4 linked regions of the Homo sapiens genome follow. The protein of the gene in region 3 purifies or fractionates together with the protein of the main gene of each other region. This does not show direct contact. Each region holds a gene or a part of one and is shown on either strand. Other genes may lie near its edges. The genes, in order: ANKRD40, PASK, ENDOV and ZNG1A.

Region 1 (7,063 bases), about 30 Mb from region 3:
TCTCGATCTCCTGACCTTGTGATCCGCCTGACTCTGCCTCCCAAAGTTCTGGGATTACAGGCGTGAGCCACCGTGCCCGGCCAGCTCAGATAGGGTTCTAAGTGTTTTACATGTGTTAGCTTGTTCACAACTACCTGGGGACATAGTTACTGTTCTCTCCATTTACAGATGAAGAAACTGAGGCCCAGAAACCGTAAGTTGTTTCCTCACTTTTCACAGTGCCCCTTCCCAAGGTCATAGGATTGACAGTAACTAGTGGAGCCAGAAAACAAACCTGGTATCTGATGCCAGACCTACCCTCCTAAACACAATGTCTGCCCCATAGGAGGTGTTTAGTGAAGTGATTCTGAGGTAGCCTGAAGAGGCTTCTTATAGGTTTTTTTTTTTTTTTTTTTTTTTGAGATGGAGTTTCACTCTTGTCACCCAGGCTGGAGTGCAATGCGTGATCTCAGCTCACTGCATCCTCCACCTCCTGGGTTCAAGCGATTCTCCTGCCTCATCCTCCCAAGTAACTAGGATTACAGGTGTGTGCCACCACGCCTGGCTAGTTTTTTGTATTTTTAGTAGAAATGGGGTTTCACCATGTTAGCCAAGCTGGTCTCGAACTCCTGACCTCAGGTGATCTGCCCGCCTCGGCCTCCCAAAGTGCTGGGATTATAGGCGTGAGCCACCGCGCCCGGCCTCTTGTAGATTTAATTGGAGGAACTGTCTAATAGGCCCCTCAAACTCAACATGTCCAAGATTGAATTCCAAGTCTCCCCTCATCCCTCTACCACCTCAAGCCTGCTCCTCTGAGTCCTCAGCCTCTCAGGAGTGCTCAGGCCAGAACCCTTGGCACCCTGCTTGCCTCCTGCTTGCCTCCTGTCTTTCATAGCCGACATCCAGTCAGCCAATTCTATGAGCTCCACCTTCAGATACAGTCAGAATCTGACTACTTCTCACTAACCCTACCACTACACCTCTGATACAAAGCCACCATTGTTTCTCTTGCTTGGATTATTACAATAGCCTCCTACTAGTGTCCTTGCTCCTAAGCTTATATCATACAGTCTTCTTAATTAACACAGTGGTCAGAGGGATCCTGACTTAAAACATAAGTCAGATCATTTCACTCTGCTCAAAAATGGCTCCTATCTCACTCAGTAAAAGCCTACAGGGTCCTACAATTTCTACTTCCTGTCCCCACATCTTCCCTCCTTACCTCTGTGCTAATCTCATGGGATTTGCCCTTCTGCTTACCTTTTTCCCCTGGCCTCCTTGCTTTCTCTGGAATACCAGACAGTCCTGATTCAAGATCTTTGCGTTTTGTCTTCCCACTCTCTTAAATGCTTTCCCTCCAGATATCACATGGTTTGCTTCCTCACCACCTTCAGATTTTAGTTTAGATGTCACCTTCTTGGCAAGGCTTTTCCTGGGCCCTCAATTTAAAGTTGCACAATGCCCCTTTCCAACCTCTGTCATTCCCTAATGCCTTTCCCTGCTTTACTATTGCTGTCATACTTCATCACCACCTAGCGTACTGCGTGCTTTGCTTATTTATTTGCTGATGTCTGTTTCCTCTTCTGTAAAATGGGGGGAATGTTGACAGTAGTATTACCTCATGGGTTTAGAGGATTAAATAAGTTAATACATGTAATGCCTTTAGAACAATGTCCAACACGTAAAGCATTATACCTGTATTAGCCATTGTTGTTGTTTTCTTATTATGAAGCAATATGCTAGATAATGGAATATAAGGTTACCCTCAAAAAAACGTACTCTCTTGCATTTGCAAAGCAGAATGGTGACTGCTTTCAAGTCTTAGTTGCTCAGTAATCACAATTTCAGCACCAATGAGTGATGCCCTGTTGATGAATGACACCCAGTGCCTCAGGTCTGAAATAGTTTCTGACACTAATAAGATATTTTGACTGCAAATGTAAAGCTTAAGGAGTTGAAGTTCAAAGATAGAGTAATCTATCAATTAGATTGATCACTAATCATTCCCCCACATCAGTTGTAATTCAAGTGTCATGCATAACCCTTGGTTCATGAAGAACTTGAAAATATTACCTGGCTGCAGGGGCTCTGAGTTATGGCTGCCCAGAGCCGCACAGCTCTGGACGGTAAATGATGATCACTAAGGCACAGGGCTGTGGGGGCCACGCTATGTTGACTTAACCCTGCTTTACATGGGTGGTAGTTTAGCAAGTTGGTTTGTCCCAGAGTCTCTCAGACCCACTGGTAGTAAATTACCTCCTTTACTCTCAAGCTTGCCACGAACAAGTGATCTACTACTAGCAAGTGAGCATTTTATTTCCAAAAGGGAGCATATTTTTCTCATCATGCTTCATTCATTTTTGAGGGCTCACTTATCATTATAATTGTTCACTTTTTAAGCCTGTGCCACAGACATCCACACACAAACACACTCAAGGTTCCAGTTTGCCCAGAATCAAGGGTAGATTGGATCCTTCTACTTCAAGCAAGGTCCACTTTATCCTTAGTTTACTCATTTGGTACTTTTTTTTTTTTTGAGATGGAGTCTTGCTGTGTTGCCCAGGCTGAAGTGCAGTGGCACAATCTTGGCTCGCTGCAACCTCCACCTCCTGGGTTCAAGCAATTCTCCTGCCTCAGCCTCCCCAGTAGCTGGGATTACAGACATGCACCATCACACTAATTTTTGTATTTTTAGTAGAGATGGGGTTTCACCCTATTGGGCAGGCTGGTCTCAAACTCCCGACCTAAAGTGATCCACCTGCCTTGGCCTCCCTAAGTGCTGGGATTACAGGTGTGAGCCACCGTGCCTGGCCCATTCAGTAAATATTAATTAATACATGCCAAGCAAACACTTCCTTGCCTTCAGGGAGCTTGATCAAGACTCTTCTCTCCCAAACTTAACGAGACTCTTATTTTTCCCAAATTAGCAATAATTTTGTCATTGCATCATGGAATACACCTTAAAGGAACCTGGATAATCTAATTCTAATGAACCATAATGTAGAATGTCACTCTGAGACATCAATGGAATTGCTCCCAGCCAGCCAGACATGCTAACTTTCTGTAAGTTACTAATGTTAAGCCCAGGGCAAATCAGCTTTTTCCTGGAATCATATAAACTTTCCAAATAATTATACTTCCCAGGTTAGTGAACTAACCTTCAATATTGAACATTTGTTCTAATCTTCATTTCTGTATTTGGCTATAAGAGCTCTGAAGATATGTATCTCAGTTCAGTTAGAGAGTTGGTGAAAGAAGACCTTTCAAAACACAGGCGAAAAGTATTTTCCTTCCATAATATACAGTCAGCTCTGGCACCTAGGGATGGATTTAGTTGCTCTGAATCTTTCATTTCTGTTAAGATGGAGTTTTTGCTGGCATGCTAATTATGTTTCTGTACAGTATTAAAATAGTAGCCCTTCAGAGTGTGCAGAATTGCTTCCTCTGTGTACAATATTGAGTGATTAGTTTTACTTAAATGAGTCTGATATGTTAGAAGAACCTGTTCGTGAAGAATTTTGGTTGTTGATGTATATTTTTTAAGTACCTCAGGAATTAAAGTATGTGTGCAGTGCCTTACATTTACGCAGATGAGGATATGTTTGTAGCCTTCTGGAGAGAACTAGAGAAGCCAACTTTTTAAAAATGGAAATTTGGAAATCCTTTGTGTGTGTGTTAAGGAAAGAAAAGTAAGAAGGAAAAAGAAAGTGAGCAACTGGGATTCAGGCAAGAATATCTGCTGTCATAATAATAATTTAAGTGACAGAGCAAGCTGCTGATAGGAGATGGTTATTATCCTGATAATATTGAATCTTCAGGTGGCATATGAAGTGAGTTTCCATAGTCCCTGAAAAGGAATATAGCAATAGAAAAATATGTTTCAGAGACTGAGATGATCTAATGAGCGATACTGATAGAGTATATTCCACGGTATCATTGGAGTTAGCCAGCCAGTGAGCTTACCTTCTGGAGGCTATTGAAATTAAAACTCCTAGGTTAAGTTAGTTTTTCTCAGGAGCCAGAAATGAAATTTAAAAACAAAATTTAAGCATATTAAATATTTTGCTCATCGGCTTTGTGAAAAGTTGAGATTACCAGCCCGGTTACCTGGTTCTAGCTGAACTCTAACAGGCTTGTTTATACATTATTTACTAATGTTTAGAATCTGAAATCCAAAATCACTTCTCCTCTTTTTCAATCATTATTTTCTTTGGTACAGGACTTGTTTACACTGGGCATGTAAACGAAACCATGGTCAGGTGGTCTCTTACCTGTTAAAATCAGGAGCTGACAAAGAAATTCTTACCACAAAAGGAGAAATGCCAGTCCAGTTAACATCAAGGAGAGAAATCAGGAAGATTATGGGAGGTGAGTCTGTGTTTGGGGGAACTTTTGATTTCCTCAGACTCATTGAAGACTTGTGGTATTATTGGCTACGTTCTTAATGCTGGTCAAACAACTGCTCTATTTCTTTCTTTTTTTTTTTTTTTCCGAGACGGAGTTTAGCTCTTGTTGCCCAGGCTGGAGTGCAGTGGCGTGATCTCGGCTCACCACAACCTCTGCCTCCCAGGTTCAAGTGATTCTCCTGCCTCAGCCTCCCAAGTAGCTAGGATTACAGGCATGTGCCACCACGTCTCGCTAATTTTGTATTTTTAGTAGAGACGGGGTTTCACCATGTTGGTCAGGCTGGTCTCAAACTCCCGACCTCAGGTGATCCGCCAGCCTCAGCCTCCCAAAGTGCTGGGATTACAGGCATGAGGCACCGCTCCCGGCAACTGTTCTATTTCTAAAAGCAAATTACTGTGCCAAGATAGTAATTCCAGATTGTTTCTGGGGAGGTCAGCATTGTAAGGTTTTATTTTTTTATTTGTAAAATTTAAGATAATGATAAAAATGGTAATCATAAACCTAATGAAGTATTCTTTTTTCTTCTGACCTGACACTGACCAATGTCACATACCAAAAGACACCACTTTCAAAAGACACCTTGTTTTGATAATTTTGAAAGGACTGTGTAAATGTTCTGTTTTCTTCTTTTTAAGTGGAAGAAGAAGATGATGATGATGATGATGATGACAACCTCCCCCAGCTGAAGAAGGAGTCAGAACTGCCCTTTGTTCCCAACTATTTGGCCAACCCAGCCTTCCCTTTTATCTATACACCCACAGCAGAGGATTCAGCCCAGATGCAGAATGGGGGCCCCTCCACACCCCCTGCATCACCCCCTGCAGATGGCTCACCTCCATTGCTTCCCCCTGGGGAACCTCCCCTGTTAGGGACCTTTCCCCGGGACCACACCTCTTTGGCACTAGTTCAGAATGGTGATGTGTCGGCCCCCTCTGCCATACTCAGAACACCAGAAAGCACAAAACCGGGTCCTGTTTGTCAGCCACCAGTGAGTCAGAGCCGCTCCCTGTTTTCTTCTGTCCCGTCCAAGCCACCAATGTCTCTGGAGCCTCAAAATGGGACGTATGCAGGACCAGCGCCAGCATTCCAGCCATTTTTCTTCACTGGAGCATTTCCATTTAATATGCAAGGTAACCCCTCATCAGCAAACAGCCTCTGCAACAGGGGAGTTGGTGTCCAGAGGGGTGGGATTTAATGAGGTATTCTGGGTATAATTGCAAACTTACAGAAACGTTACATGACTAACATAAGGAACTCCCTTTACTCAAATTCACAAATTGTTTACCTTTTGCCCTTTTACCCTGATACCCTTCAGTATTCTTTCCATTATATCTTTCCTAAGAACAAGGATATTCTCTCTTTTTTTTATTGAGACGTAGCTTCGCCCTGTCACCCAGGCTGGAGTACAGTGGTGTGATCTTGGCTCACTGCAACCTCCGCCTCCCAGGTTCAAGTGATTCTTCTGCCTCAGCCTCCCAAGTAGCTGAGATTACAGGAGCATGCCACCACGCCTGGCTAATTTTTTTTTTTTTTTTTTTTTTTTGTATTTTTAGTAGAGATGGGGTTTCACCATGTTGGCCAGGCTGGTCTCAAACTCCTGACCTTAAGTGATCTGCCTGCCTCAGCCTCCCAAAGTGCTGAGATTATAGGTGTGAATCACCGCACCCAGCTGGATATTCTCTTATATAACTACAGTACAAATGACCAAATTTGAGAAATGTAATCTTGAGCTAATGCTGTTCTGTAATCCATAGACCATGTTTAAATTTTGTCAGTTGTCTCAAACATTGCCTTTTGTATTCCCTCATCTACTATACGTACTGTCTGTACTATTACAGAAATAGTACTATCTGTACTATTGATATCTATCTGGACTATCTGTACTCCTCTGCCCCCTGCATCCTGCCCAGGATCATATGTTGCATGTAGTTATCACGTTGTTTTAGTTTCCTTTAATCTGGAATCTTTACCCTTTATCATTTTTGATCTTGATCTTTTTGAAGAGTCCAGGCCAATTATTTTTGTGGGATATGATTTTCTATCATTCTTTCTCTACTTATTAGTTGGTATTTTACTGTAAAGAAGGGCTTTCCCTTCTCCTTCATTCATATCAGTATTGACTCATATATTCTTATTTTATTCAGTGGGTTATAATCTGTTACTATCATTTTTTAATTATTCAAATTATCCCAGATTTGGCCAGTGGGAGCCCCTTGAAGCTAGTTCTTATGTCCCTTGCATGTGTCTTCATTGTTCTTGGAGCACTGCCTTACTTTCTGGGGCAGCAAGATGTTCCGGGCTTATAGCATAACTTTTCCTGCCCCAACCCTGGAATCAGTCATTTCTCCAAGAAGCCCTGGTTCTTTTTGGTGGAGAATGGTATTTAGGGCACACAGCAAACTTGCCTCCCACTTGGGCCCACCGAGAATGGTATTCAGACACCAGGATGTGGTCACTAGGTGTCCTCATTGCTACAGGTATATCATTTCTTCTAGGCCCGTTGAGAGGACATAGCCAGGAAAGATATCAATATTTCTCTATGTATAACTTTTTAAAAATATTAAAAACCACAAGTTCATCCTGATTCTTCCAAATCCAGTCAAATGCCATAGGGTGTAGCTAGTCTTACTTTTCCTTTTTTCCTGGAAGTAACTCTCTCACTTCCTGTTTTTGAGGA
Region 2 (8,396 bases), on a different chromosome or scaffold from region 3:
GGAGGACGTGGCTGGGCAGCATATCACAGACCTGATCCCTTCTGTGCAGCTCCCTCCTTCTGGCCAGCACATCCCAAAGGTAGGGCTCCTGACCTCCCGCACTGTGTGATGGGGTGGAGTTCTTAGCTCTGAATCCATAACTGGAGACGCAGACCAAGGGTTTCTGAAGGCAAGGGTGGCCTTAGGGGTGGGACATGCTCAGTTTTGAGCTTCCTGTGCGCTGAGGCCTTGACCAAGGGCCGGAGCCTATGTGGTCTCCCAGCTGACCACTCTTGTCCCCTGAGTCTTCTCCCAGGAGCTGGGCCACCCACAGAGGTGGATGCTGGGACGCTGCCCAAGGCTGAGGGGTGGGAGGTAACATCCACAGCTGCGCAGCTGGTGTAGTGCTGCCTGTGGGGCCAGTATCCTGGTGCCAGATCAAGGATGGCACAGTTGCCAGTGGCGTGGCTGAGCCCCGAGCCTGAGCCCCACAGTCCTCCCTCCCTCCCTCCCTGCTGGTGCCCGGCCCCTCACTGGGGTGTCTCACTTGCCCTGGGGTTGCTGTGCCTGGGGCGGCTCTGGACACTGAGTCCTCCCCACCCACAGAAGGGCTCTTTCCTGGGCCAGCTGGGCCTGGGAGGAGAGGGAAGGCAGAGCAGTGTGGGTGTGAGATGTCCTGGGGACCTTCCCCGATGACGTGGGGTAGAAGTCGGGTCGGACGCAGCACAGACTCAGTGCTCTGTCCACGTGAAACACGGCTTAAGCCAAACGACAAGCCTTTCTTTCAGAATCTCAAGATTCAGAGGTCTGTTGGAAGAGCCAGGGACGGTACCACCTTCCCTCTGAGCTTAAAGCTGAAATCCCAACCCAGCAGCGAGGAGGCGACCACCGGTGAGGCGGCCCCTGTGAGCGGCTACCGGGCATCTGTCTGGGTGTTCTGCACCATCAGTGGCCTCATCACCCTCCTGCCGGATGGGACCATCCACGGCATCAACCACAGCTTCGCGCTGACACTGTTTGGTTACGGAAAGACGGAGCTCCTGGGCAAGGTGGGGCTGCCCTGGGCGCCTGGCTCCCGTTCCCTGGGAGGAAGCTGCTGTGCTCTGCAGTGCGGGCTTGCGTGTGGCACAGGCCTCGCACCCGGCAAGCTCTCCAGCTCGCTCCTTTACCCAGGAAGGACCTTGGGTCCAGGGAGGGAGGTCCCTGCTCATGGCTGCCAAGCTCCTTCCTCTCCACCCTTCCCCAGCAACCACCGTCGGAGGGAGAGGAGCACTGTGCTTCGAAGCCCTGAGAGATCTGGTCTGACTGATGGACCAGGGTTTACGACACAACTGCGGGGGTTCATTTCTCACCCTAGTAGAAATACTAAAAAGTAGCTAAGCTGAATTGTAGTTACGTTAAATTTAAGTTAGTTAAAAAGCAGTTAGTGTTCTTCCTGGATGAGGGGTTCCCACAGGAGCTGAGGGCATTGAGACCTTGCAGGGATTTTGGGGGCATGGACACTTGTGCCCTCTGTGAGGTTAGAGCGGGTTCTGGCATTACAGCTATGGGCAGTGTCCCGGTGAGGGGGCCACACACAGGTTCAGAGGAAGCATCTGTCAGAGCAGCTCCTGGCCTGGGAGGAAGGCCCCACAGTCCTTCTGTCCTGGGTGCATGTCACTGTTCCGGCCACCAGTGAGCCGCGTGAGGTGAGGCTTGCAAACACAGGCTCCCAGATCCATCTAAACATGGGGCCAAAGGCCAGATGTCTGCTCCAAAGATGTGTCGATGTCACTGTAACTTGCCGCAGAGTATGTTTTTACCTTTTTCTTAAGGGGAAAATCACAGATCACATGTTGAGCATCTGAGGGGCTTCAGGTGCGTCGAAGGGCATTTGGCCCGAGGCCTTTCCTGACCTTAAGGGTGAACCCTCAGGGACTGGCTCTCCTTGTGTTCATTCCTCCCCCAGGGGGACGGTCCAGTGGGTCAGCGTGGATCCTCCAGGTTCTGAAATGTCCCTGCTTTGTTTTCTAGAATATCACTTTCCTGATTCCTGGTTTCTACAGCTACATGGACCTTGCGTACAACAGCTCATTACAGCTCCCAGACCTGGCCAGCTGCCTGGACGTCGGCAATGAGAGTGGGTGTGGGGAGAGAACCTTGGACCCGTGGCAGGGCCAGGACCCAGCTGAGGGGGGCCAGGGTAAGACGTCCTCTTCCTCCTGAATGCGCCTGTAGCTGCTGAGCCCCAGACAGCCCCATGCCTCTGAGACAGGGCTGGGAGGAGCAGGAGCTATTGTCCCTCCAGAGGCTCAGGGGTGGTGGGGGGCGGAGTAGGGGGTGACTGTTTTCTGGTTTGATGTTCCTCTCTGTCTCGGGGGCTGTGACATATTCTTATAAACATATGAGCATAGAGAAGAGAATAGAAAACCCCCCAAGAGTGCATCACCAGTGCCCATGATATCCGAGACACAGCATCCGAGACACAGCTAACTGACCGTCTTGTCTTTTCTAAGTAAACTTATATAGCTTCATGTAGTTTAAGTGAAGCCATGTAGCATATCGGATTACCGCTGACCCTTGAACAACTGGGTTTGACATTAGAGGGTCCACTTATACACAGATTCTTTTCAACCTCAGAAATCCAGTACTGGTGGGAGGTGAAGTTGGCGTATATGGAGGGCTGACTTTCCATGCACCTGCGTTCCACGGGTGGGCTGTGGGACTTGAGGGTGCTCGGATTTTGGCATTCTGGGGGTCCTGGAACCCATCCCCTGAGTGTACTGAGGGTTGACTGCAATTCCTAAATTGAATGTTCTACCAGTATTTCCTGGTTTAATTATGTTTATCCCACATAGTTTTAATTTAACATTTTAAATGATTTCAACAAATACTCCGAGTCCCTTTCATATGCACAGTCTTAGGTGTGTGGCTTGTGAAGACAGGGTGAGCACACTGCCTCCTGTCCCGAGGGACCCACTCTGGCTGGGAGCAATGAGGGGCAGTAGAACCCGCTGATGTCCTGGCAGGGCCCACGCCTGAGCTCCTGGTAAGGAGCAGGCCCCTGGCTGCTTCCACAGTGCTCATTCTTGTTGACAAGCATGGGGTGGGGGTGCGCCCTGTCCCTGGCTCTGCCCTGGTGGGGACCCCGGAACTCTGCCTCCAGGGCCTCTGCCCACCTGGAGCGTGGGCTCACTGGGTGTGGTTCTGGAGTTCCTGGGGCAGGCTGGGGCCCAAGGGTCCAGGTGATGGTGTGGCAGGGGTGTCAGGTGGGGGGGTCTCTGTTCTATGGAAGGACACAGTGGGGGTGAGAGAGAGAGAGTGGCCAGTGCTGGCAGAAAGCACAGCCACCTCGGGGCTCTGCATCGTGGTGGGGCCAGGCGGGTCGGCAGGTGCTGGCTTGCGAGGTTGTCCTGCATGCGGTCACTCGGGTATCGAATGAGTGCGAAAGTGGATTTAATACAGTCACTGAGAAAAACTACAGCTTCACGAGACTGACCAGCCTGGTGAGATAAACATTTACCGTCAGACACTCTTTAGCTGTCTGGGCATTGTGTGAGTTCTTTGGCACATGCGCCCAGCCTCCTTCCCCACAGGGTCTCGCCTGGGGCATTAGAAGCTGGATTGTAACATTTGTTTTAAAAGATACTTTGTTAGGCTGTTGGTTCTCCTTACAATCCCGGCTTTCCTTAGCATGTGGTTCCCTTCATTGTATCTGGGTTTTTCTATCTCAGTCTGTCCTTTATACAAGCTTTTTCCTCTAGCACTAATTATATTCCCCTTCCCCTTTTTCCAGAATTCCAAATTCTGACCTGTGCATGCATGCCTGTGTTGAGTACATGCTGTTTGTCGGATATTTGGTGGTGGGGGGAGGGGATCACATTTCTGTTACTCTCGCATTGTTTCCTTAGGATGAATTCTTAGAAGTGGAACTTCTGGATTCAGGGAATGAACACGTTTGCTAGTTACTGTCAAAAATGCCTCTTGGAGAAGTTATGCCGAACCACCCAACTGTCCTGGTCACAGAGCAGGCTTCTCTCGGCTTGGGGCTAGGGTTCTTTCTGGGGTCGTCCTTTTTTTTTTTTTTTTTTGAGACAGAGTTTCGCTCTTGTTGCTGAGGCTGGAGTGCAGTGGCACCATCTCGTCTCACTGCAACCTCTGCCTCCTGGGTTCAGGTGATTCTCCTGTCCCAGCCTTCCGAGTAGCTGGGATTACAGGGATGTAGCACCATGCCTGGCTAATTTTGTGTTTTTAGTGGAGACGGGGTTTCTCCATGTTGGTCAGGCTGGTCTCGAACTCCCAGCCTCAGGTGATCTGCCCGCCTCGGTCTCCCAAAGTGCTGGGATTACAGGTGTGAGCCACTGTGCGTGGCCTCCCAGGGTCCTTCCTAATGCAGGCTGCTTTCTCTCATGTAACCAAGAGACATACATTCATCCCCTACCACGTGCCAGGCTGCACTGCGTGCAGATGCCCCTGCGCTCACGGGGACTGGAGGGAGCCAGGTGACATGGAGCCCAGGAAGTGGCCAGAGCTCGGGAGGAAGGCAAAGAGGGGAAGAGGGCATGCAGTCTTAGGCTTGGGGTCCCAGGAGGCCTAGGGAAGCCTTGTAGATACCCAGGTACAGCATTTCTGGGATCAGGAGCCATGATCCCAAGGCCTCTAATACTTCAGATATGGCAGGGAGGCCAGGTGGAGAGACCTGGAGGAGTGAGGCCACAGAGTTGGGGGGCCATGGCCGAGACTTCGGCTTCTATCCAGAGTCAGATGGGAGCTGTTGGAGGGTTGTCAGCAGGTGAGTGCCGTGCTCTGACTTGGGTGTTAATAGGATCATGGTAGCTGGCTGCAGGTGTCCTGGGCCAAGGAGCAGGGAGACAGGAGGCAGAGAAGAGGGCGCTGGGTTGGACCTGGGACGCCTGGGGTGGTGAGAGGTGGTCGATGCTGGTCATGCTGTGAAGCAGTCTCAGTGAGTTCCAGGCGAATGAGCAGATTCGTTTTAGGGAGTGCCTGTGAAGAGCAAACGCTCTTTTTTGGTGTTGCTGCCAGATCCAAGGATTAATGTCGTGCTTGCTGGTGGCCACGTTGTGCCCCGAGATGAGATCCGGAAGCTGATGGAAAGCCAAGACATCTTCACCGGGACTCAGACTGAGCTGATTGCTGGAGGCCAGCTCCTTTCCTGCCTCTCACCTCAGCCTGCTCCAGGGTAAGTCCCTTGGTGGGAGGTTGCAGGTTTACTAAAAGTCCAGACAGATGGTAGGTGAATGAGGAACAAGTCAGAGAGAAATGTTCAGCCTATTATTCATAGTAACATTGAAAACTCACATGTGTTGAGCACCTGCTCTCTTCCACACACACTGACTGCTGGGTTTTCTGTGCTGCCTGGCTGAGTCCTTATCAGCCTGTATGGGAGGGCACCATGGTGTTACTGTCTCACTGTAGGGATAAGGAAACAGGCTGTGGAGAGTTCCAGAATGTTGAGGTAGATTTCAGAGAACTGATGGAATCATAATTTTATCATTTTCTTTTTTTTTTTTTTTTTTTTTTTTTTTAGACAGAGTCTCGCTGTGTCACCCAGGCTGGAGTGCAGTGGTGCGATCTCAGCTCATTGCTCATTGCATTGCAAGCTCCGCCTCCCGGGTTCACACCATTCTCCTGCCTCAGCCTCCCGAGTAGCTGGGGACTACAGGCGCCCGCCACCACGCCCGGTTACTTTTTTGTATTTTTTTTAGTTTCACCATGTTGGCCAGGATGGTCTCGATTTCCTGACTTTGTTATCCACCCGCCTTGGCCTCCCAAAGTGCTGGGATTAATTTTATCATTTTCAAAGTCATATGAAGCTGTTCTCTTTGCACATTTTAAAATATTCTATTTAGAGTAAAGAAAGTTTATATTAGAGAATTAGGAACATTTGGAAAAGTAGAAATAAAAACTTGTTCTATTCTCATAGTCGTATTGTACATAGCACGTGTGTGTGTATTTTTAACCCATTTTCTTCTTCGGAATCTTTTTTTTTTTTTTTTTTTTGAGATGGAGTCTCACTCAGCTGCCCAGGCTAGAGTGCAGTGGCGTGATCTTGGTTCACTGTAACTTCTGCCCCCTGGTTCAAGTGATTCTCCTGCCTCAGCCTCCTGAGTAGCTGAGACTACAGGCACCTGCCACCACGCCCGGCTAATTTTTGTATTTTTACTAGAGGCGGGGTTTCACTATGTTGGCCAGACTGGTCTCGATCCCTTGACCTCATGGTCCACCCGCCTTGGCCTCCCAAAGTCCTGGGATTACAGGTGTGAGCCACCATACCTGACCCAGAATCTTTTCTTATGCACAGCATGCAGTAAAGGTGCCCAAACTGTAGGTGCCCAGGTGGCCCAGGACCCTTTCTTGGCTGCCTGCAGACCCTGGGTCCCTTCCTGCACTGTGCCCCCTACACCCTGCTGCCCTGGGTCAGGGCAGAGGTTAGACTGCCTGCCGTTGAGCCTGACGCATGCATTTCCTTCTGTCTGCCTTCTGCTTATTGCTGTGTCTGTGATATTTATCCACATAGTTGTGTTTTCTAGTCTTGAAATTATTTAAAAAATATGTAATAGATACATATAAAGTATGTATGTATGTTTAAAAATATGTAATGCATGGGCCAGGCGCGGTGGATCACGCCTATAATCCCAGCACTTTGGGAGGCTGAAGTGGGTGGATCATGAGGTCGGCAGATGGAGACCATCCTGGCTAACACGGTGCAACCCCGTCTCTACTAAAAATACAAAAAATTAGCCAGGCATGGTGGCGGGCGCCTGTAGTCCCAGCTACTCGGGAGGCTGAGGCAGGAGAATGGTGTGAACCTGGGAGGCGGAGCTTGCAGTGAGCCTAGATCGCGCCACTGCACTCCAGCCTGGGCGACAGAGTGAGACTCCGTCTCAAAAAAAAAAAAAAAATGTAATACATGCATATGTGTTTTTTTAATTATAGAAGAATAATGGTAAAAGCAATAGTTCCCCTGGCCGTCTTCCAATCCCCCTCCTCCAATCCTACTCTTTCCCCCAGGGGACCGCAGTCAGCAGTTAGAGCCTTCCAGGCCTTCTTTCTTGTGCATTTAACTATAGTTGTATATTATACTTCTATGTGTGCATGTGCATATGTGTGCTCACATGTAACTGCTTCTGTTCCCTGAGCACGGCTGGGATTATACCATACACAGTGTCCTAAATGTGTGTGTATGTGTACGCACACACATGTCCTGCAGATCTTCCTCTACAGGCCTCCTCGGAACCGAAGCCTCCTGGATGGCACCCTAGCTCATGGGCCACTTTCCCACTGGCCGATGTGCCGGTGCTTTCTCTTGTTTGCTTAGCCTCCCTGATTTTCCCTTTGCCACTGTGGGTCCGCGTTGAGTGGCGTGAGAGGGTAGCTGTTGGCTCTATTTGCTCTACTTCCACTGCGAGTGGAACAGAGCAGGCGCTCAACACGTGAGTTTTCAATATTACTATGAATAATATTGCTGTGCGCACCTCTCCAGAGGTGCCACCAAGCTGAAGTGGGGCGGCCGTGGTTGAGGGCCCAAGTCTGACCCGTGGGTGCTCAACAGCACTAGCGGCCGGGCCCCCTTGCCAGTGCTCCCGTTGTCTGGGACATCTTGGTGGACAGAGGCCACGTGGCCCGTTGCTATCCTCAGGACCTTGGACACAACTCATCTTCCAGGACTTGGTGGTACCAAGGGAGTTGCCCAAGATCAGCCAATTCCTAGTCTTTCTATTGCATTGGACGTTTCTGGATGTCACAGTTCTGAGAGTTTGATTAGCATCCACTGCACAGCTAGTGCAGTTATGACTATAGAGATTTATCCATTCATTCCCCGCTCAGTCATTCACTCACTCGTTCGCTTATTCAACAAATAAGCATTACAGAAGACTTGGGGTGTGTCCCTAAGAATTGTAGTCTGGTCAGGACAATAAGCTGAAACAGTAAGACAGAACAGGGTTAGGAAGCATGAAGGAAGGAGGTGAGCTGTACGGAGTGCTTTTGTGTTTTAGGGACTACGTTGGGTGCTTCCTCGTAAGTTGTCTCCTTTAGTTCTCCTGGTAATCCTGGGAGTGTAGTCTGATTTTTAGCAAATGGATGCTGAAGCTGAGTGAATTGTTACACTGGGCATCAGGTCCTCGAAGAGACCCCAGGTGATGTGCTCAGACAGCAGGTGGGGGTCTCGGGTCTCCACGGGGGTCAGGTCCTGGTGCTTCCCCACTGGAGGACCTACGGTCCCTGGGGCTGCCCTGGGTTGAGGTCCCAGCAGCTCAAGGCCTGTGTGCAGTCGGCAGATCACATCCTTCATGCCCTGACTGCATGCTGGCCAGAACTGAGTGGCGTGGCGATGCCTGGCTGCCAGGGCAGCTGGAGGATGTCCTCATGTTTCCTGAGTTGCTGTCATGCTGAAAGTCAGAGATCCACAGTTTCAC
Region 3 (8,396 bases):
GCGAGGGCCATTGTGGTATGTGGGCTGCTGCTGCCCCCTGGAGGCCACACTGCGCGCCAGCAGCCGGAAGGCCCCGGCCCGAAGGTGGTGGCCTGGGGGTTTTCCACCGGTGCTGCGGCTGCCCCAGGGCAGGCTGCAGGGCAAGCGGTGGGGTAAGATGGGGAAGGGGCAGACACCAGGGAGGCTCAGGGGCTGGGCTGCTGGAAGCAGCATGGCTTGTGCAGACCTGCGTCCACAGCCTCCACAGCACGCACAGCGGCCACCTAAAAAGGCCAATCTGCGGGCGCCCCGCTGCCAACTCACAGCCATCCAAGTCCCTGTGGGTGACGTCTGAAACCCTGGCGCACCCCAAGATGCTCACGGGCTCCCACCCACTCTGTACTTCACTGCCATCTGGCTCCGGCCACACCTTCCTGCTGAGTTTTTGTTTTTTAAAGTTTTTTTGAGATAAGGTCTTGCTCTGTCACCCAGGCTGGAGTGCAGTGGCCCAATCAGGGCACACTACAGCCTCGACCTCCTGGGCTCAGGTGATCCTCCCGCCTCAGCCTCCTAAGTAGCAGAGACCACAGGCACGCACCACCACACTTGGCTAATTTGTTTTTACGTTTTTTTTGTAGAGACGGGGTCTATGTTGCCTAGGGCGCCCTCAAACTCCTGGGCTCAAGTGATCCTCCCACCTCTGTCTCCCAAAGTGTTGGGGTTACAGGCGTGAGCCACCCTCCGGGCCCCCCATTTCTTGAGCACATCAAACTCCTTCCTGCCCAGGGCTGTCCTTCCCCTTCCTCCAGCGGGTCTCTTCCTAAGACTGACTTTTCTTGAACCCTCACTCTGTGGGCTTCTCTGGGACAGCATCCACCCGTGTCTTGTGGTCCCCTGGTCCTATCGAGGCTGTCTGTGGGCATCTCGTGCCAGCTGTCTCTCCCTGGCCCACAGGCTGAGTCCTTTCTCAGCTGAGCTGATGGCTTCAGCAGAGTTCTCACCCTTCCTGGGGGACCGAACACCAGTTTTGTGCTGGGTCCTGGGGCGGGCATACCCAAGTCCCCAGACTGGCGTCTCTGGGGCCTGCACAGCTTTCCTGCAGGAGCCTCCTGGCTCAAGTTCAGCTGCTCCCTCTGGGACCTGAGGGGCTGGCTGGGAACTGGCAGGACACCTCACCACCTGAGCTAACATCACTGATTCTCCAAGCTGGCCTGTATCTGGGTGCAGGAGGCTCAGAGAGGCTGGGAGGCTGAGTGCATGGGGTGCAGGGCCTGGGGATGAACTCTTGGGAGCCCTGCACCCCCCAGTCTACTGTCCTGACTGCAGGGCCCAGCAAGCTCTCCAGCAAGATGTCTGTGACCTGTCCTCGGCCCAGGAACCCCCGTCCTCATGTCACTGCACTCTGACCCCAGCTGAGCTGCTGGGGAGCCCTGAACAGCAGGTGGCAGGAAGCAGAGGAGCCTGTGCTGCCTCCCCGCATCCCCAGCACACCCACCTGGCGCACGGGCTCTGGGATCCGGAACCTGCAGCAGCAGCAAGTCAGGCGCACAGCGGCCTCCAGGCTCATCCTGTGGCCCACGGAGATGTAGAGGGGCCTGGTGCTGCGGTCGTGGCTCCTCAGGGCCTGTGACAAGGAAGGCGAGGGCTGTCCTGTGGGCTGGGCCACCGGGACCAGGGTCAGGACAGCCTCAGCAGCTGGAGCTCTGACAAAATGTCCTGGGGGCAAGGGGGAAGCTGAAGGGGCAGTGCTCTCAGGGGCCAGGGCCTGCCCACCCTCAGGGCGCCTTCCTGCTGCTTGTCCCTGGGGGAGGGTGGGCTCCCTCAGCACGGCTGGAGGAAAGAAACACAAACATCACACCCTGGACTCAGTCAGAGGCAGGAGGATGGATGGACGGGCAGGCGGGGGGTTGATGTGGGCAAGTGTGAGTGCACGCGTGTCTGCATGCACCTGTGTCTGCCTGCAAAGGATCCCCTACCCCGGGGCTTTGGAGGAGCTCAGGGCCCTAGCTACTCACCATTCCCAGGACAGTCCCAGAGTCTCCCAGCAGAGGGAATGAGTCTCCTCGAGTCTGCAGGAGTCGGATCTGGAAAATGGAGGGAAAAATGGGGAAAAAAACCCCTCTCTTCTTGGTGAAGGGCTGAAGGCAAGTCTCTATTTTTTGAGACGGAGTGTCGCACTGTTGCCCAGGCTGAAGTACAGTGGCGCGATCTCAGCTCACTGCAACCTCTGCCTCCCGTGTTCAAGCGATTCTCCCACCTCAGCCTCCTGAGTAGCTGGGACTACAGGCATGTGCCACCACGCCCGGCTAATTTTTTGTATTTTTAGTAGAGATGGGGTTTCACCATGCTAGCCAGGATGGTCTCGATCTCCTAATCGCGTGATCCACCCACTTCGGCCTCCCAAAGTGCTGGGATTACAGGAGTGAGCCACCGCAACCGGCCCAGGTCTCTTTATTTTTAAAACCCAGTCACTGGGCCAGGAAAGGGAAGGGGACTGATCTTGGAGGTGAGCCACAGCCCAGGCAAAGCCACACCACCTGAGACGACACTGAGCGTGCAGGCGGTGAAGTGGTCTTGTCCCTGAGCTGAGGGTGCTGCCCACAAGACCCTGTTCAAACCTGATGATGGGGCTTAGAACAAGGGCAACAATCTGCCCAGGGCCGCTGTGCCAGGCTGGCAGCCACACAGGTGCCGCCACTGCCCAGTGATGGGTGCTGAGCCCGCTTCCTTCCTGTGGCTTCTCTCCTGCTTTGGGCACATCTGACACAGCTCAACAGGCTGGTATTTCTGGCGGCGGTGGACTGGCTCATTGAGTGGGTCTAAGGTCCCCATCAACTCAACAGATTTTTATTAAGCAACTTCTCCATGCAGGCACCTGAGAGCTAGGAGGAATGAGAGACACAGTCTCTGCTCTCAGAATCTGCCATCCAGTGAAACAGCTGGGGGTGTCAACAGCTCCCTCCATTGTGAGTGTCTCACTCCCAGTGCCAACATGGGGTCCCAGAGGAGGAAGATGCAGGGGAAGGTGAGGTAGGAAGAGTGTGGGTGGCAGCTCCAGGCAGGTCTTGGCGGGAGGGGGGCCTGGAGGCTGTGGTACCTGAGCATGCAGGGGAGGAGACAGGGGCTGGGGCAAGGCGGGGTGGGGAAAGCACCAAGTGCGCCCGGGACAGCCTGGAAGCCCGTCCTGTCCCCAGTAACTGGAGGACTTAGCCCTACTTGGTGTGCCACGGTGGCTCAGAGGCAAGGGGGACCAGAGAGGCAGGCACACCCAGGAGGCAGGAGAGGAGCTCAGAGCGCCCTCAGCTGAGACAGGCAATGCAGCACCCAGAGGAAAGCAGGTCTTTCTTACTCCAGGCCACAAGCCAGGGATGAGGAGGGCAGCGTCAGCAGGCAAGGGCTGGTCCAGAAGTGTCCTCATGCCCAGGGCCACCACAGCCCCGCCACTGAGCTGCCGGGCATGGCCTGCAGCAGGCCCCTCCTCACCTTCTCCTTGTGCAGGGCGTTGTTCTCCAGCCCATCCACCTGCAGAAGTTTCTTGGCCACCCCAACACACGGCAGGTCTGTAAGGACGCCAAGGTGGCAGGCCACCCCAAAGCCTGCCAGAGAGAAAGGAGGGTGGGGTTGGGGAGGTGGGGCTGGGGCCTGGCACAGGGATTCAGGACAAGCCAGTCTTACCAAAAGCTTCCCTAAGTGAGCAGAGGTCTGTGGACAGGCAGAGGGCTGGGGAAACCAGATCTAAGTCCCAAGCAGACCTGGGCGAAAGCCCCCTGTGCCCGATGTCCTGGGTGCAAGGCCGTGGAGGAAGCCTCCTTCTCTCTGACACGGTCAGTGCCAGGGTCAGCACCTCGCTGGCGTGCTGGGATACTGCAGCTCTCCGGTCATTTCCTGCACCTCCCAGCTTCCTCTTCCCTCGACGGTGGCCTGCCAGCGCTGGCACGAGCATGTGGGTCGGCACATGACAACCCTTTGGCTCTGCACCCATGTGCGAGGGCAGCAGCCAGGGCCGAGTCACACTTGCTGGCCAGGAAGGCCCAATGTCACCCCTCCTGGGCCCTCTCTGGGTGCTGCTGCGCCGCCCGCAGCTCTGTATGTAACAGTAAAAGAGCCCATCTCCCTAGGCCGGGCGCGGTGGCTCACGCCTGAAATCCCAGCACTTTGGGAGGCCGAGGCAGGCGGATCACGAGGTCAGGAGATCAAGACCATCCTGGCTAACACGTGAAACCCCGTCTCTCCTAAAAATACAAAAAAATTAGCCGGGCGTGGTGATGGGCACCTGTAGTCTCAGCTACTCAGGAGGCTGAGGCAGGAGAGTGGCATGAACCCGGGAGGCGGAGGTTGCAGTGAGCCGAGATCGCGCCACTGCACTCCAGCCTGGGCGACAGAGCGAGACTCCGTCTCAAAAAAAAAAGAGCCCATCTCCCTCAGCCACGCTCCCTAGGCCAAGGTTCCTGGCATCAGTGGGGGCCTGGGTACACCTGTCTAGTTGTGGACAAGGGGCCTGACGGGCCATGCAGGTTGGGCGGCTGGCAGGGAAGGCCACTCTGAGCCCGGGCCCTGGGACATCTTTTGGTGATCAGGTCAGAACTGGATAGTGGCACCTGGAGATGAGCCAGCACAGGGCACTGTAGAGAAGGCAGTGGCGGACAGGAAAGAGGTAAGGGGTGAAGCGAAAGTAGACAGTCCTTTACCGGCGGTGGGGGAGGCGGGGCTGAGCGCACTGCGCGTCCCCGTTGCGCCGAGAAAGAAGCCATTGGAGGGGGCTGGCGGCAGAGGCCGAGGGCCCAGCATTTTCTGTGGGGGACGACAGAGGTGCCCTCTCCCCCCGCTCTTCCCCACAGTGCCCTCCCTGGACCTCCAAGAGCAGGATTACCTCGGTGGTGGAGTACCCCGTTTCCATCCACAAGAAGGACCTATGGAGCCACAGGGAGAGTCACAGTCAGCTGAGCTGCCCCTCGGCCCTCAGGACAGGGCCATCCCTGAGGCAAGAAGGGGGCACTGTCTCTGGGGTCCAGCTTTTTAGAAATCCTCATTCCTCTCTTCCAGGAAGCTCATGAGTCTCTCCCTGCCACTGTGGTGGTGGCGACCTGCAGCAGCCTTCCCTCCCCCAGGGGGAAGGAGGGACCTTTCTCTCGTCCTAGGGATGAGACACCTGCCTGGGGCATGAGGCCCGGCTCCTTCTCCCGCAGCTGCTGCACCAGCTCCAGCAAGAAGGGCACCTCTCGGAAGGCCAGGAAGCCCGACACGTAGGGGGCTGTGAGGCTGACCATGCGGCTCTCCTCATACACCACCTGACACCAGGCACGCAGCTCAGTGGGAAGCACAGCCTTCGGCCACCTGCTCCATCCCCAGTCCGTCCATGCCCTGCCCCCCTCATCCTTCCCTCTCCCTTACGTCACCCTCATGGCTCCCCTTCCCTGCCTCACCTATGAGATGATGGGTTTGGAAGAAGGAACTAGAAGATGTACCCTGCAAATTGGTGGTGGGCAGGTACCCCCGGGACCTGGTCCATAGGAGCAGACCCCCCCAGGACCTGGTCCGTAGCAGCAGCTCCCCCGGGACCTGGTCTGTAGCAACAGCACCCCCACCCCGCCCCCACCGGGACCTGGTCCATAGCAGCAGCCCCCTGGGACCCGGTCCATATGAGAACCCCCACCCCGGACCCGGTCCACTGGAGGAGCCCCAACTCCCAGACCTGATGTGTATAGTAGGAGCCCCTGGGACCTGGTCCATAGGAGGATTCCCTGGTATCTGGTCTGTATGAGGAGCCCCCAGGACCTGGTCCATAGGAGGATTCCCCGGGATCTGGTCTGTATGAGGATTCCCCGGGACCCGGTCCATAGGAAGATTCCCCGGGATCTAGTTCATAGGATGAGCCCCTGAAGCCTAGACTGTAGAAGGATTCCCTGGAATCTAGTCCATAGGAGGAGCCTCCGGGACCTGGTCCATAGGAGGATTCCCTGGGATCAGGTCCGCGGGAGCCCCCCAGGACCTGGTCTTCATCAGAAGCAAGGCTAAGGCTGCTGGCTGCATCACCTCTGCCTGCCCCTTGCTTTCCTGGTGTCTCCTCCTTTGTGTATTGAAGCCGATGCCCCACCCCACCCCTCCATGGGTTGTTGGAGGCTTAAAGAAGACACAGTGTTGGCCAGGCGTGGTGGCTCACGCCTGTAATCCCAGCACTTTGGGAGGCCGAGGCGGACGATCACCTGAGGTTGGGAGTTCAAGACCAGCCTGACCAACATGGAGAAACCCCGTGTTTACTAAAAATACAAAATTATCTGGGCGTGGTGGCGCATGCCTGTAATCCCAGCTACTCGGGAGGCTGAGGCAGGAGAACTGCTTGAACCCAGGAGGCAGAGGCTGCAGTTTAGAGCACAACATGGCAGGCCTGAGTCTCCTAACCTTGTGTTTTCCTTAGTCACACTGCCCTTAATGTGAAGACGTTTCCCACTATGTCCACATTCTGCAGACCTGTCTACCTTCCTGCAGTTTTGTTACTGAATCCCCCAAATCTCTTGGTGACAGCTTTCAAATCACAACTTCCACTCCTCACTTGTGGCTGGATCAATAATTAAACACACCAAAGCAGACGGAGTGCTCTGTATTAGCACAGAGGGTTGGGGATCATTCTCACAACATCTTCATCAATGACTCAATGGGGAAACTGATCAAATCTGCCCATGACCCAAAGTGGGGAGGGTCCATTCTGATAACAGAATTTGGGTTCACAGAGAAGCCAGCAGGCTGGATCACTGACATCCCCACAGAGTAAAAGTCACTTTGCACAGTGACATGTGGAATTCAAGTGTGGCCTGAGTTCCCACAGGAGGGGCGTGGCTGCTTACATCTGAATCTCTCCCATAATGTTATCATTCAGGTGACATTATGGGATGACTATGATGTGTAATCAGTATGATAATGACACTGTGGCTGTGGAGGAGAATGTCATTCTCAGGACAGGCCTGCTGATGTCTTCTGAGCTGTCACAGTCGCTGGGATGTACGGTACACACGCACACAAAGAGCGCATGTGCGCGAGAGAGAATATTCCAGAGCAGCAACAGCTGAACCTAAGTAGAAGGAATACAGGTGTCCAACGTATCCTTTTCCAATTTGGGGGGATGTATGTACATTTTCAAATTAAAAATCTGGGAAAAGAAAAATCACTGTATGATTAGCGTAGGGGGCAGGTCTGGATGACCAGCAATCTCAACATAAGCCAGTGACCTGGTGCCCCTCAAAAGCTACCAGTGTTTCCAGCTACACCGACTGAAATGGCGTGGGTGACAGTTAGGTCTAGGGACTTGGGTAGACCACATCCAAGTTCCTGCATTTGATTCTGAGTGCAGACGGAAAGATGGATTGTGTGAACGGAGGGCATGACCAGAGGGCCACTGACCAGTGAAGAAGCTGGACGTCATCGCAGCCTCTTGGGACAGTGTGGTCAAGGAGCAGGCAGCTGTTTCCAGCAGCAGAAGGGCTGACAAGCAGAAGGCAGGGAAGATCCGTTCTGTTTTGCTACCTGAAGGCAGAACTGATCGATGGGAGTCACAGACAAGTAGGAGTCAGCTCCCTGCGGAGCAGAACACACTAGCCATTGCTCAGCGTCCAGCACACAACAGGCTCCACCAGGCCTGTGGAGCAGCACACACCAGCCATCGCTCAGCATCTGGCATGGAATGGGCTCCGCCAGAGGCCTGCGGAGCAGCACACACCAGCCATGGCTCAGCATCTGGCACAGAACGGGCTCCGCCATCGTTTGTCAGGGATGCTAAGGACAGTGTTCTTCACGGTGGGAAAAGCAGGCCAGTGGTTCTCCAGCCCAGCTCTGCTTCAGAATCACAGGAAAGCTTATTTTAAAAAGCAGATTCTTATGCTATACTCTGGGAGAGTTTTTCCCCCAGTAAGTGGGGTAGGGCTCTGGAATCTGTTTTTTTTTTTTTTTTTTTGACAGAGTCCTGCTCTGTTGCTCAGGCTGGAGTGCACTGACGCGATCTCGGCTCACTGCAAGCTCCGCCTCCCAGGTTCACGCCATTCTCCTGCCTCAGCCTCCCGAGTAGCTGGGACTACAGGTGCCCGCCACCATGCCCGGCTGATTTTTTTTGTATTTTTAGTAGACACAGGGTTTCACCGTGTTAGCCAGGATGGTCTCGATCGCCTGACCTCGTGATCCAGCCGCCTCAGCCTCCCAAAGTGCTGGGATTACAGGCATGAACCACTGCGCCCGGCCTGTTTTTTTTCCTAACAGGTTTACTGAGATACAATTAACATACCATAAAGTTCACTTGTTTAAAACATATAATGCGATGGTTTTGGTATTTACAGAGTTGTGCAATATCACTACAATCTAACTTTAGAACATTTTCCTTAACCCCTAAATAAACCTCATCCTCATCAGCAGTCACTTCCCATCCATCCCAC
Region 4 (8,396 bases), on a different chromosome or scaffold from region 3:
GAAAAAATGTTTTTTTTAGGAATTAGGAAAGCACTTTTGTATGGACTCTATTGCAACTCATGAAAAATACTTGAAAATGCTTCTGTTATTAGTTAACTTTGTTTAATGTTTATTATCTGCAATGCAGTTAAAACTCAATATTTTAAAAATAAAGGTAAACATATGGTCTTTATCCTCATGTATTTTAAGTTATCTGTGAAAATAAGTGTGCTTAACTTCTCAACTGAAATATTAAACTGTAGTCAAAAAAATAGCTCTAGACACAATACTTCTGTTATCTTTATAGAAGTTTTTCTTCATAAGTATGAATTGTAATCAAAGCTTACTTCTAGCCAAAAAACAATATCTATTAAACGATTTCTTTTAAAATGTACTATTTTTTTTCAGTTGTAAAAAGTAAAAGAGCTAGGTTTTATGAACAGGATGGGAAGCCAGTTATATTCGATTTCTGGTTTTAATAAACGAAAGAGAAAAGTGCTTTTTAGGCAAAAATCCTGAGATTTCTAATAACAGACTGTTTTTTTCATCATCTTATTAAATAACCTATTGCACACTGATTACATTTATTCTTACTATTTTCTTTATTTTTTCCTGGATCATTTTTGCAATTTTATTTTTCACAGCATTCTCAATACTTTTCTTCATGTTTCATTAATGTTCTGTATATAGTCCAAATTCTGTAGCAACCTCTTTAGAAGCTCTTTATTAATACCTAGCTGAAATATAAAAAATATGTAAGTGTAAAACTACTCGATTTTATGGGAGCTCATTTGCTTAGTGGGCTTTTAGAACTTCACTGTTTGGTATATTTCTTTATTAGAGGAAAAGTAAAACATTTAAAATAATTCTTATAGATAACAAGCATTTCAAATGTAGTTTATTCTTTCTTAAGTAAGTATTGCTAGGAAAATATGTGAATTTGACTAAAAGTTTAGGTTTTTTTTTTTTTTTGAGATGGAGTCTCGCTGTGTTGCCCAGGCTGGAGTGCAGTGGCGCAGTCTCGGGTCACTGCAACCTCCGCCTCCCGGGTTCACGCCATTCTCCTGCCTCAGCCGCCTGAGTAGCTGGGACTACAGGCACCCGCTACCACACCTGGCTAATTTTTTGTAATTTTAGTAGAGATGAGGTTTCATTGTGTTAGCGAGGATGGTCTCGGTCTCCTGACCTCGTGATCCGCCCGCCTTGGCCTCCCTATAAGTTTAATTTTTAAATGAGCACGTGGTACACTGGCCAAAAACCTTCCTCAAGATGAACTAGGGTTTTTACTCATTGGGAATATTCAGCAGTTTGTCTAACAGAAACAATTTAGAAGAAGAATGAAAAGAAAAAGATAGATAAGGCAGTCTCTTAAGAGGTTGAAGGGCATACAAAATCCAGTATATAAAACATACTGGTCTATTTAGAAAGTTTACCCTGGACAAGAAAAAAATGCCTTCAAGATAGCTACTTTATTAAGAAATGGGGGTGGCCAAGTAAGAGGCCTAAGGAGGAAGTAGGTATGTTTATCAGTTTAGGATGTGTCTTTTTCAGGGCTTAAGTCATCTTAAATAAAAGCTAAAATAATGTAGTGTACTGTAATTTAGATATCGAGGCTGCATGAATAAAATGAAAGAATATAAGTTATAAAATGCAGTTTCTGCTTTAAGATCTCCATTATTGAGTTATCCTCATCTTTGTTTTTTTTTGGCTAATGGACATAAGCTAAAGAGTGCTGTTTGTTAATTATTCTAGGAAGTGCGCTGGAGAAATCCTTAGCTGTCAGCCAAGGTGGAGAGCTCTATGAAGAGTGGCTGGAACTTAGAAACGGTTGCCTCTGCTGTTCAGTGAAGTGAGGAATGTGTTTACTGTGTACATGGTTTACTAGAAATGTTTATTGATTATATTTCCAGCTTTAATTTTCTTGAGTAATTTAACTGAATTTACACAGTTTGCTTCATTGTATTTTCAAACAAATAGAAAATAAACTTATTAGGAAGCATTTTCTTAAAGTGTTTCTTGCTGTCTTTTCTATCTGCTCTAATGTTTTGGTCCTTTTATTGAGTTTTTATTGCTTTTGATGTCAGGGCTTATTTAATCTCTAGTGCATGAAAGTCTCATATGTAAAAAATGATTATTCTGAATTTAATCTGTCATTGGTCATACTTCTAAGTGTTCAATCTTATAAAAAAAATAAATGACTATCAAAAAAGAGAAAAACCTTACGTTATGTTCTACTAGTTAAGTTTTCAAGGACAGTGTTCACTAGTCTACCATAGACCCTAGAAGAGTTACCCAACACATAGTAGCACTCAAATATTTGTTGAATGAATTATAAAAATGACTACTTGTACTGTTAATTTTGTGTATTCTAGTGAATTAAATCTCTTCGGCATCATTTACTCCCTTAGGTATTTGACTTTGTGTCAAATGTTTTGGCAAGGATAAAATTATAACAGACTTTCTTGAACAACCAAAATATAATCTATTAAGGATTTTCCTTCACTTTTGATAAAATAAGAAAAAAGGAAATTAAAACCTTGCATCCTAATGTAAAATAGAATTATATGGTGTTTAATATCAGTGTCTCTTTAGCTATTATATTAAACTACTATAGTTAATACATTTTATCATTATTTTGTATGTTGGTTTTTAAAAATTTCATAAAGCTATAAAAAGATACTTGGTCAGATAAAGTTTCCTCTGCTTTTAATTTTGATAAAGTATTATGTATATGATTTCTTTTTACCTATTATATATATGCATCTATTGTTTTCTCACTGGTAAATATGGGACGGACATTTTGTTAGAAGGTTAGAAGTGAGTTAAATTTTCACATTCCCAAGGGTACTTTTGTCTCGGGTTGTTGAATATATTTTAAAGTGTTTATAATAATCACTTCAAAATATTTAGGTAATTAACTGTAAATTATGTTTTGGTATTCTCCAGGGACAGTGGCCTTAGAGCTATTGAGAATTTGATGCAAAAGAAGGGGAAATTTGATTACATACTGTTAGAGACCACTGGATTAGCAGACCCTGGTAAGAAGTGAGATTATTAATAACCAGAATATAGTTCTGTGATATATTGTAAATAGATGTATTAGAGGAATATCTAAAATGAGGATTAAAGCTTTTGTTAGTATTAAACCAAAAACTTTTTTTGGTTTAAAAGAGGAAAAGTACTCGGTTGTCATTTTCTTTGGCAGTTGAATGAATGAACAGAGTATTTCTTGGTACTTTTAAGCTGTTAATAGAATTTGAAGTTTTATTGATTGACTTAGGATTATTTGTAAGAACAGAAGTTGTTAAAAATAAGGACATGTAGGAAGAGCAGAGACGTTCTACCTCTAAGTACAGTTGTCCCTTGGCATCCATGGGGTATTAGTTCCGGAATCTCTGAGGATACCAAAATCTATTAATGTTCAAGTCCCTTACATAAAATGGTGTAGTATTTGCCTATAAGCTATGCACATCCTCCCATATACTTTAAATCATCTGTAGATTACTTATAATACCTAATACAATGTAAGTGCTGTGTAAGTAGTTATTACACTGCATTGATAAGGGAATCATGACAGGAAACTCTGAACTCTACTATGGAAAGCTACACAGAGTCAACCTGTTTCTAACAATGGGTTTCTGTTACCTTCTTACCAAGCTCTAATTCTTGATAAAGTCTGCTTATTTTCCCCAAATAACTTTTAGATAAAATCTTTATTTTCATTTTGCATAAAAGTTAGTGCTTATTCTGTGAATCTGACCCATACCATTATTTTTTTTTTTGATCTGGGTCTCTGGCATTGGGGCGATTTGTAAAACTATATTAAAGTATTTGGGGGTAATTTACTCAACAGGTCATAGTTGTCCAAAAGAAATATTGAAGTATCCTGAGAGTTCAAATGTGATCAGTGGTTATTGTACTTAAAACAATTACATAATAACATCATCCCCATGTTTTCAAAGTAGTATTGAATTAGGCTATTTTGGTCCTTATAGTAGGCATGGGTTTTCATACCTTTCTGATAAATCTGACTGATGATAGGACTTGGACTAATATGTTGGTGTTAAATATTTGAATCTGGTAAGAAAGAAAAATATATTGTATGCTTTTATTAGAAATAGCAAATATCAGTTTATTTCATCATAGCCAGTTTTGCCATTTTATAGACAAAAACTTGATACTTTTGAGAGTTTAATTAAACACGATTCAGCTTTTCAGAGGAAGAAAGAAAAACTAAAGATCACAGAGAAAGCTTTTATACAAATTGTAGTTATAAAAAATGTTAATGTTTCTTGCTTCTAACTTTCTTTACAATAAAGATTTTATTGTTTGGGTAAAGATGGAACATTCATTGTAAAAAAATTTAAATACCTAAAAAATACAAAGAAGAAAGTTGAAAAGTAATCATCTCACTTTTGTGATATACAAGTAGGGGCTGGGCATGGTGGCTCATGCCTGTAATCCCAGCACTTTGGGAGGCTGAGGCAGGTGGATCCCTTGAGGCCAGGAGTTCAAGACCAGCCTAGCCAACATGGTGAAATCCAGTCTCTACTGAAAATTCAAAAACTAGCCAGGCGATGTGGCGCACCCCATAATCCCAGCTACTCAGGAGGCTAAGGCAGGAGAATCGCTTGAAAGCTGGGAGGCGGAGGTTGCGGTGAGCCGAGATCACGCCACTGCACTCCAGCCCAGGCAACAGAGCAAGACTGTACACACACACACACACGCACATGCACATGCGCACACACACACACACACACACATTCATACACACACACACACAAGTAGGTACATTTTATTCCAGGGATCTCTCTATGCCAGTGCTACTTGGTAGTATGTTGAATGGCAGCCTCAGCCTCAGCTGGGAGCTTGTTAGAAAGGCAAATTCTTGACCAACCCAGATCTACTGAATCGGAATCTCTAAGGGAGGGGGTCAAGCAAGCTGTTTTTAATAAGCCCTTCAGGTGATTCTTATACTGTACAGCCATACCGCAGGGATATTGTGGGCTTAGTTCCATATCACTGCAGTAAACTGAATATCACAATAGAGTGAGTCACACACATTTTTTTGTTTCCCATTGCATATAAAAGTTATGCGTTTTGGCCGGGTGTGATGTCACAGGCCTGTAGTCCCAGCTACTTGGGAGGATCACTTGAGCTCAGGAGTTTGAGGCTGCAGTGAGTCATGATTGCACCACTGCACTCCAGCCTGGATGACAGCATGAGACCCCATTTCTTAAAAAAAAAAAAAAAAAAAAAAAAAAGCTGTGTTTATACTATACTGTAGTCTATAAAATGTGTAATAGAATTGTCTAAAAAACATACATACCTTAATTAAAAATATTTATTGCTAAAAAATGCTAACAATCATCTCAGCTTTCAGCAAGTCATAGTCTTTTTGCTGGTAGAGGGTCTTGCCACGATGTTGATGGGTGCTGACCAATCAGGGTAGTAGTTACTGAAGGTTGGGGTGGCTATCGCAATTTCATAAGATAATAATGAAGTTTGCTGCATTAGTTGACTCTCCCTTTCATAAAAGATGTCTCTATAGCACATGATGCTATTTGATAGCATTTTACCCACAGTATGACTTCTTTCAAAATTGGAGTCAGTCCTCTCAAACCCTGCTTTATCAATTAAGCTTCTGTCATATTTTAAATCCTTTGTTGTCATTTTGACAGTGTTCATAGCATCTTCACCAGGAGTAGATTCCATCTCAAGAAACCACGTTCTTTTCCCGTCCATAAGAAACAACTTCTCATTAGTTAAAGTTTTCTTATGAGATTGCAGGAATTGAGTCACATCTTCAGACTCCCCTTCTAATTCTAGTTCTCTTACTGTTTCCACCACATCGGCAGTTATTTCCTCCATTGAAGTCTGGAATCCCTCAAAGTCATCTGTGAGGGCTGGAATCATCTTTCAAACTCCTATTCATGTTGATACTTTGATCTCCCATGAATCACAAATGTTCTTAATGGCATCTAGAATGATGAATCCTTTCCAGAAGGTTTTCAATTTACTTTGCCCAGATCCATCAGAGGAATCACTGTCTATGGTAGCTATAGCCTTATGAAATATATTTCTTAAATAAGACTTAAAAGTCAAAGTTACTCCTTGATCAGTGGGCTGCAGAATGGATGTTGTGTTAGCAGGCATGAAAACAACATTAATCTTGTACATCTCCATCACAGCTCTTGGGTGATCAGGTGCGTTGTCAATGAGCAATAATATTTTGAAGGAATCTTTTCTTTTCTAAGCAGTAGATCTCAATGGTGGGCTTAAACTAAACCGTGCTGTAAACAGATGTGCTGTCATCTAGGCTTTATTATTTATAGAAAACAGGCAGAGGAGATTTAGCATAATTCTTAATGGCCCTAGAATTTTTAGGATAGTAAATGATTATTGGCTTCAACTTGAAGTCACCAGCTGCTTTAGCCTCTAACAAGAGAGTCAGCCTGTCCTTTGAATCTTTGAAGCCAGGCATTGACTTCTCTATAGCTATGAAAGTCCTAAATGGCATCTTCTTCCAAAAGGAGGCCATTTCATCTCCATTAAAAATCTGTTGCTGGCCGGGCTCGGTGGCTCATGCCTGTAATCTCAGCACTTTGGGAGGCCGAGGTGGGCAGTTCACGAGTTCAGGAGTTCAAGACCAGCCTGGCCAACATAGTGAAACCCCATCTCAGCTAAAAATACCAAAAATTAGCCTGGCTTGGTGGTGGGAGCCTGTAATCCCAGTTACTTGGGAGGCTGAGGTAGGAGAATGGCTTGAACCCGGGAGACGGAGGTGGCAGTGAGCTGAGATTGCACATTGCACTCCAGCCTGGGTGACAGAGCGAGACTCCATCTCAAAATAAATAAATAAATAAATAAAAAATAAGTCTGTTGCTTAGTGTAGCTACTTTCATGAATGATGTTAGCTACATCTTCTAGGTAGTTTACTACAGCTTCTATATCAGCATTTGCTGCTTTCCCTTGCACTTTTATGTTATGGAGATGGCTTCTTTCTTTAAATCTTGTGAACCAACCTCTGCTACCTTCCAACTTTTCTTCTCTAGCTTCCTCACCTCTCTCAGCCTTCATAGAACTGAAGAGAGTTAGGGTTGCTCTGAATTAGGCTTTGGCTTAAGGGAACATTGTGGCTTGTTTGATCATCTATCCAGACCACTTCATATCAGCAATAAGGCTGTTTTATTATCATTTGTGTGTTTACTGGAGTAGCACTTTTAATTTCCTTCAAGAACTTTTCCTTTGCATTCACAACTTAGCTAACTGGCTCAAGAGACCTAGCTTTTGGCGTATCTTGGCTTTCAACATAACTTCCTCACTAAGCATAATCATTTCTAGCTCTTGATTTAAAGTGAGAAACAGGTGACTGTTCCTTTCACTTGAACACTTACAGGCCATTGTAGGATATTAATTGGCCTAGTTTCATGTTGATCATATTCTTTATGTTGTCATGGTTCTGTCATAATTCTTTTAGTTCTATGTTTTAATAGTTTTGGTGCTTATTACCAGTACTGTTGCTTCTCCATTCCCGAGTTAGTCCATCTCCTGATTGAATTTCATTGTCAGGCAGTCTTTTCAAGTTACAGGTACTGCATGCATTCTTTGGGTTCTTATACACTTCATTGATTCAAAATATTTGTCTTTTGTTTTTATATTACTTGAAGGATTACTTGGCTAGGTATAAAATTTATCAGTCACACTTTATTCCCCCTCAACTTTGTAAATGTTGTTCCATAATCTCCTAGTGTTTGATTGGCTGGATTTCTTTGTCCAATGTTTTCTCTTTTTATTAGGAAGAATTTGTGAGTATTATAGTCTCTGAGTTTCAATGCTTGCTGTTTTCTTTAATGCTTGAGAATGTCTGTCTATTGCTTTCGTTCCTGAAAAATAACTTGTTTGGGAACACTTTCATTAGAACTTTGTGGTCCCTGTTTTATTATTTTGGGACATCTAGTGTTACTGTAGAAAAGTCTGATTTTTCTCCCTACCTCCTTGAAGGCAATTTTTTTTTTTAATCTAAAATGCCTGAGAGTTTTCTTCTTTATTTTTGAAATTCAGTAATATAAACAAGGTATATCTAAGTGTCACTTATAATCATTTTTCCCTAAATTATAGTATGCCCTTAGTTCTTCTAAGAACATTTTCCTTGTTTATTACCATGAATACTTTTTTTTGGTCAAATTATTAGATCCTCTACTTCATGACACCAGTTTTTTTAATACTGAATTTTCTTTTGTTGTTCGTATGTATTCTAATTGCTTTGATTTGTCTTTTACCTTTGCATTTACTGTGATCATCTGAAGCCTTTCTTTTTGTCAATAATTCTGTTTTCTCCAGTGTCTGTCCTGTTTTTGATATTTTAAATGAATTAATTGGTTAAGTCATTGTGTTATATAGGCTCTAAGTTTCTT

The links.
Region 1: the proteins of ENDOV (region 3) and ANKRD40 purify together in Homo sapiens (affinity purification with mass spectrometry; 3 studies listed by BioGRID and IntAct, with this or other methods). This does not show direct contact.
Region 2: the proteins of ENDOV (region 3) and PASK purify together in Homo sapiens (affinity purification with mass spectrometry; one large-scale study listed by BioGRID and IntAct). This does not show direct contact.
Region 4: the proteins of ENDOV (region 3) and ZNG1A purify together in Homo sapiens (affinity purification with mass spectrometry; one large-scale study listed by BioGRID and IntAct). This does not show direct contact.

Annotation. Positions count from the first base shown.
Region 1 is NC_000017.11:50,697,852-50,704,914, reverse strand, and holds part of ANKRD40 (ankyrin repeat domain-containing protein 40), read left to right. Parts: intron 1-4,198; coding exon 4,199-4,347; intron 4,348-5,021; coding exon 5,022-5,516; intron 5,517-7,063.
Region 2 is NC_000002.12:241,129,636-241,138,031, reverse strand, and holds part of PASK (PAS domain-containing serine/threonine-protein kinase), read left to right. Parts: coding exon 1-79; intron 80-767; coding exon 768-1,028; intron 1,029-1,992; coding exon 1,993-2,161; intron 2,162-4,194; exon of another isoform or gene 4,195-4,602; coding exon of another isoform or gene 4,603-4,750; intron 4,751-5,001; coding exon 5,002-5,158; intron 5,159-8,396. UniProt on the Homo sapiens protein: Serine/threonine-protein kinase involved in energy homeostasis and protein translation. Phosphorylates EEF1A1, GYS1, PDX1 and RPS6.
Region 3 is NC_000017.11:80,418,699-80,427,094, reverse strand, and holds part of ENDOV (endonuclease V), read right to left. Parts: intron 7,678-8,396; exon of another isoform or gene 7,602-7,677; intron 7,549-7,601; exon of another isoform or gene 6,822-7,548; intron 5,268-6,821; coding exon 5,133-5,267; intron 4,890-5,132; coding exon 4,850-4,889; intron 4,212-4,849; exon of another isoform or gene 3,962-4,211; coding exon of another isoform or gene 3,655-3,961; intron 3,576-3,654; coding exon 3,463-3,575; intron 2,064-3,462; coding exon 1,995-2,063; intron 1,637-1,994; coding exon of another isoform or gene 1,604-1,636; coding exon 1,475-1,603; intron 1-1,474.
Region 4 is NC_000009.12:166,702-175,097, reverse strand, and holds part of ZNG1A (zinc-regulated GTPase metalloprotein activator 1A), read left to right. Parts: intron 1-1,731; coding exon 1,732-1,828; coding exon of another isoform or gene 1,829-1,832; exon of another isoform or gene 1,833-2,609; intron 2,610-2,925; coding exon 2,926-3,017; intron 3,018-8,396. UniProt on the Homo sapiens protein: Zinc chaperone that directly transfers zinc cofactor to target metalloproteins, thereby activating them.